Regions from separate parts of the Homo sapiens genome. Here region 2 is linked to region 1. The links come from fine-mapping of genetic effects on gene expression. A gene starts in region 1. The other region holds a variant in brackets. All regions are shown on one strand. Distances are between the middles of the regions.

Evidence for each region.
Region 2: its variant is fine-mapped to the expression of LINC00997 in whole blood (TOPMed, PIP above 0.99).

The regions. Positions count from the first base shown.
Region 1 is chr7:32,756,854-32,759,790 of GRCh38, forward strand. LINC00997 (long intergenic non-protein coding RNA 997) reads left to right here and starts at 1,433. Exons shown (of 1, transcript NR_036501.1): 1 at 1,433-2,937.
Region 2 is chr7:32,724,410-32,727,346 of GRCh38, forward strand. No RefSeq gene overlaps it. Among named protein-coding and RNA genes, the nearest start is that of MIR550A2, 7.1 kb to the right of the region's middle. The variant C/T (reference allele first, on the strand shown) is at 1,682.

The DNA of each region.
Region 1 (2,937 bases):
TGCACAATTTTGGTATTCGCTATCCCATTTACTCCTCACAATAATTATGTGAGATGTGTATGGCAGAAAACTCCATTTTAAAGATTAAGTATCGAAAAACAGAAAAATATTTAAAAATTATATCAAAAGTCATCTCTTAAAAGAGATTATCTTGAAATCAAAAGAGAACCAAATAATAATCATCATCAGTAAAAGACCCAGTAAAACATGGGACCTCCCAACTGTAGCCAAAGAAAAAGCAATTTCTGATAACATCTCATTTCATTCCCCTTTATCACTTCTTCAGTGCTTTCTTTGTCCTCCTTCCTCAGCTACTATAATTCATCTTCATTATCTTAAAAAGAAGTCTGCATTAGGAAAGGGTGAGAGATAATGAAGTAACAGAAAAATAATCTCAAACACTTTACTATTTAAATAATAAACCTGGGTTATAGCTTATGAAACAGTGCAATGAAGTATCATATTACAATAAGAACAAGTTTCAAAACCAACATTAAAATAAGCGATAAGTAAGAAAGCCATAAAAAAGGAAACAATAAATTGTTATAATATTGTTTTTATAATTTGCTTACTAACTCGTATGTTTTTAGGCATTTATAATGCAGTATGGCACACACCTGAAATTCCTTAACTCAGTGGTTTTTAAACTTAATTGTTGCCGGGTGCGTTGGCTCATGCCTGTAATCCCAGCACTTTGGGAGCCCGAGGCGGGCAGATCACTTGAGGTCAGGAGTTTGAGACCAGCCTGGCCAACATGGTGAAACCCTGTCTCTACTAAAAATACAAAAATTAGCCAGCCATGGTAGTGCATGTCTGTAATCCTGGCTGCTAGGGAGGCTGAGGCAGAAGAATTGCTTGAACCCAGCAGGCGGAGGTTGCAGTGAGCAGAGATCATGCCACTGCACTCCAGCCTGGGCGACAGAGTAAGACTCTGTCTCAAAAAAAAAAAACCAACTTAATTGTATATCTAAAATTCTTGTGGCTTGTTTCACCCTTCCTTCCATCCCAGGCCTCTAAATCAGAACAGAGGCAGGTTAGTGTTTGTTTTTTAAGTTTCAAGTGATTCTAATGTACCAGCCTTGGGAAATACCTCCGTAACTGTTGAAAAGGGTTCAGAATATAATTTTAAATAAAATTACTTTAGATCAAAACAGACTTACAATAAGTATAATATCACATAAAGGATCAACTTTCAAGCGCCAAAGAATACAGGTGTGTACTTGAAGACCTTTTAGTAGTGAAACTCAGCAGCTGTAGGCAGTGAAGAAAGGAGCATATGTGATAAACAAAATTAGCTGTGGTCAACAATTATGCTATAGCTAACTTATGTAGTCAGTACTTTCCAGTGAAGTTGAAAATAAAGCAAAGTTCCATGTATTAACCCTGTTTTCCACTAACCCTTCTTTACATGTAGGACATATGCCAGGGTACCAAAAACTGCAGGAATATTCCCTAGCATTGCAGCCTCAGTTCTAATACCAAAATCTCCCTGCAGACTAAATGTCTAGAGCAGCACTGTATCAATAGAACATAGGGGCAGATCTCATACCTTCCAAGGGTAGAAATCGCTGAGCACAGGTAAAAATAAAATATTCCAGAGGGAAATATTATTTTACAAATTTTTATAAACACTTTTGTAAAATAATGTACACAGCCTTGCACACTGAAAGAGTCAAAGCCATTTAACTCTGTATAACCACTGCAGAATCTTTATCTTCTTTTTTACCTGACTTCCAATTGGCGGGTGTTACTAAAACTTTATCACCAAAGTTATTTCACTAGCTGAGCGTGGTGGCTCATGCCTGTAATCCCAACACTTTGGGAGGCCAAGGCAGGTGGATCATTTGAGGCCAGGAGTTTGACACCAACCTGGCCAACACGGTGAAACCTCATCTCCACTAAAAATACAACAAATTGGCTGGGTGTGGTGGCGCATACCTGTAATCCCAGCTACTCAGAAGGCTGAGGCACGAGAATCACTTGAGCCTGGGAGGCATAGGTTGCAATGAGTCAAGATCGCGCCACTGCACTCCAGCCTGGGAGACAGAGCAAGACTGTCTCAAAAAAAAAAAAAAAAGTTATTTCACTAGCAACATATAATTACCATAAAACAAAGGAGGGTTTTAAATGAACTACACATGCAAAATACACTAGAAAAGCTAGATATTTTTAAAAACGTGGTGAATTATTTGGTAAAGCCAAAATATTTTAATTCATAAGTTACTATTCCCCCAATGCATCTATTTTGTAAATGCTGTTTCACATATGAGGTTTGTAAAAAAGCAAAATATATGTATAAAATGGCGTACATAAAGATGTTCTACAAATATAGCCAGAAGTTATTGTTTTACTGTATGCAAAGAGTGATGGCAATTTTTAATTCAAATGTTTTTAAATATTTCGAACTGAAACTAAATCTTACCAATGTAAAATTGCCACAAAGACGGCTGGAAAAGAGAAAAGTTATTAAAAGCTGCTTTATTATAAAATACCATTAAAACAAGTATTTCAAATGTATTATTTTACATGTCTAGAAAAGATAGCACAGAAAGCAAGATGGCCAGCTAATCCTGTCTCTATGAGCATAGGAAAAAATCCAGGACACAAAGTAAATTCTGAACAGAGCTTACCTCTCTGCAGCAGGGCTTGACAAGCAAAGGGAGAGACTTGAGAGGGTTTTTTTACTTCAGTTAATTGGTAGGAGTGATGGAATTATGGAATATTGTGACCTTTTTTGTTTTTTTTTCTTTTTAGTATTCTATTCCTTTATATGAAATTTTTTAAAGAAGTAAATATATACAGTATGCTTCAGCTCGTTCTAACCAAGAGGTGCCACTCTAGATCAGTTTCTCTAGCATTCATCAGAAGACGATTAAATGCAGGCAATCACTTCCTCAGCAGCACATCTAAAAGCCCCATTGTGCAACTCAACCCTTG
Region 2 (2,937 bases), 32 kb before region 1:
TCCAGTAATTTCTCTTGTTTTATGTACCACTCTTTAATACTGGACCACCTTAGGCTCTGTCATATGCCCCCTTCATTTCTCTATCTGCGCATTCTCCATAAAGAAATTCTTCCACATCCATGGCTCCAATGATCTATATACAGATGACTCCAACTCTACATTTAATCCAGAACTTTCTCCTTATTCTTATACCCAGATAGCCACTTGATGTCCCCACTCTGAGGTCTCTCAAGTACCTCAAATTCATGCATACACAATGAAACATAACAATACAAACCTGCTACTGTTCAAATGTTTCCTACCATTCAAAGCTCAGTTACTTAAGCTAGAAACCAAACTGTTTCACATGATTCTTCACTCACCTTCCCCTCTCTTACCAAACAATTACCAAGACAGGGTCTTGTCCATTCTACTTCCAAAATCTCTCTCAAACCCACATTATCCACATTATCTTTCCTGCATATCCACATTATCTTTCCTGCAATCACTTGCTGAGAATATAATAGTCTTCTACCTGGCCTCCCTGAACCTACTTTTGTCCCTTTACTAATATTCTTTCCATACCATTGATTAAATAATGTTTTAAAATGAAACTCTGTTAAAATTCTTCAATGGATAAAGTATAAAATCCTTCACCAGTGCACGCCTTTCATGATCTGATCCTCGCTTATATTCCCAGCACCATTTCACATCATTTTTCTTCTCCATCATTTCCAGGAATTCTAGCCTTCTTTCAGTTCCCTCTTGCTTCAGGATATTTGAATATGTTATTCCCTATTCTTAAAATACTTATCCTCTTACTCCTCATGTTGGTAATCTTATTTTCTTATTTGTAGTATCCCTCACAGTTGTAACTGCTAACAGACCCCTTACAGCATAAACTCTATGAGGGTAAGGCCCCATGTCTAGCTGGTTCATCTCTGTGTCCCAAGTGCCAAACAGTAACTTATCACTTATTGGGAAGGTAATTAATACCATATTTAGGTGATCATTTTCACCACTCAGACAGGGTCACACCTTCTAGCTGATTGAATCATTGCAAAGTATCTCATTTTATGAGGCATTTTCTCCAATCCTTTACATTGTACACAAAAAAATATAATTGCCCCTCAAACATCCTCATCAATTCTATTTTTACTGAGGCAATCAGTAAAAAATGTAAGGAAAATAGATTTAGTTTATATTCCAAGAGTTGAATGTTGTTACAAACAAGTCTAAAAATTTATTCATAAAATATAATAAGTCATGTTGTTAAGAATTTGAAGAAATGCAGAAAAAACAACAGTGTTAGTGTTATAAAAAGAGATACATGTGGCTCTCAACAAGTCTCAAGGGACAGCACCATATTTGAATTATAAAAGTGCTGAAATGCAAACATCTTAAATGGAAGTGACCACTATGTATCCTGGAAAGCTGTTGGATGACTCCAAAAGTGGTTCTTTGACAAAGAAACCAATGTGGAAGATAAATAGGAAGAGTTTTATTAATACTATGAGCATATATAAAAAAGTAATGTTTCTAAATCAATCTATTATTGCATATCCGATTTTTAAATATGTATGCATAATTAAATTTATACATTAGCTATTACAAATAGATATTTGACTGTTTAATCTATCCTCAAAATTTATATATTGAAGCTACCCCAAAAAACATCTTTCTGTATCTTCGCATTCTGAAA[C/T]AGAAGACTAACTTATAGTCAAGATTGCCTTACAATGGGATATGTTAATACTCAAATTCCAAAATTTATACTCAAATTTGTAAGTACACAGCCTTCTCAGAAAACTACTTTAAAACGTAAAATACTCATTGAGGTGAGCCAGTTCTAATTTTTTTTTAAATCAACAACAGTATTTTACAATAATTCTTAAAAGTGAATCATAATATTATTAAATGTTTATGAATGTTTACAAATGACAGCATTTTTGGAAGAAACATGCCTTCACAGCTTTGAACTTCATTAAGAGGTTCTATTCTGGTGACATTCCAGCAGGTCTTAGTTTCTAGTCCAAATAAATTCATTATTCCCATGGATGTGCGACACCAGGAGGCTATGATTACCTTTAAAAAGATAAAAACAAAGAGATAATGGAGGAAAATATATTCTCTTCATAATAATAATCTTTCCAAAATACCATTTTGTGATGGTTGCCTTAGACATTATAAATTCTGACAAATTTATTTAGATCATTTCACTTAGGAATCAGTCACTTCAAAATTACACATTATGCCTCTATATAGAAAAATATTATATATGTGATAGCCAATTCTGTAATATAAATAATAGTAAGTCAATATAAAAGTATATAATTAAAATACGGTGATTAATAGAAAAATACAAAGATTTATAGAAACATTTCATAATTCACTTCATTTAGATCCTTGAATTTATTCCTTCATAAAATATATAAAATATATTATAAAAACTGGAACAGAATGGAATAATAGCACCTGTACCCATTACAATTTTAATCAAGCAGAAGATTTAATTGACCAATTGTTTCCAAACTGCAAGCTATTTTTAAAAGTTCAAAGACAAAGAAAAAATAACAGAAAAAAATTTCCAACAGAATGTTCATGTCTCAGAGGTTTTTTAAAAATAACACTATACATTCTGGGAAACTAATGTGAAATCACTGGGGGGAGAATGTCAAAAAATAAAGAGTTGAAAAGAGAAAGTAAGCACCTCTTAGAGCTAACCATTTTTAATATTTTGGTGATTGGTGCGGTGGCTCACGCCTGTAATCCCAGCACTTTGGGAGGCCAAGGCGGGCGGGTCATGACGTCAGGAGTTCGAGACCAGCCTGGCCAACACAGTGAAACCCCATCTCTACTAAAAATACAAAAATTAGCTGGGCGTGGTGGCAGGCGCCTGTGATGCCAGCTACTCAGAAGGTTGAGGCAGGAGAATCACCTGAAATCGGAAGGCAGAGGCTG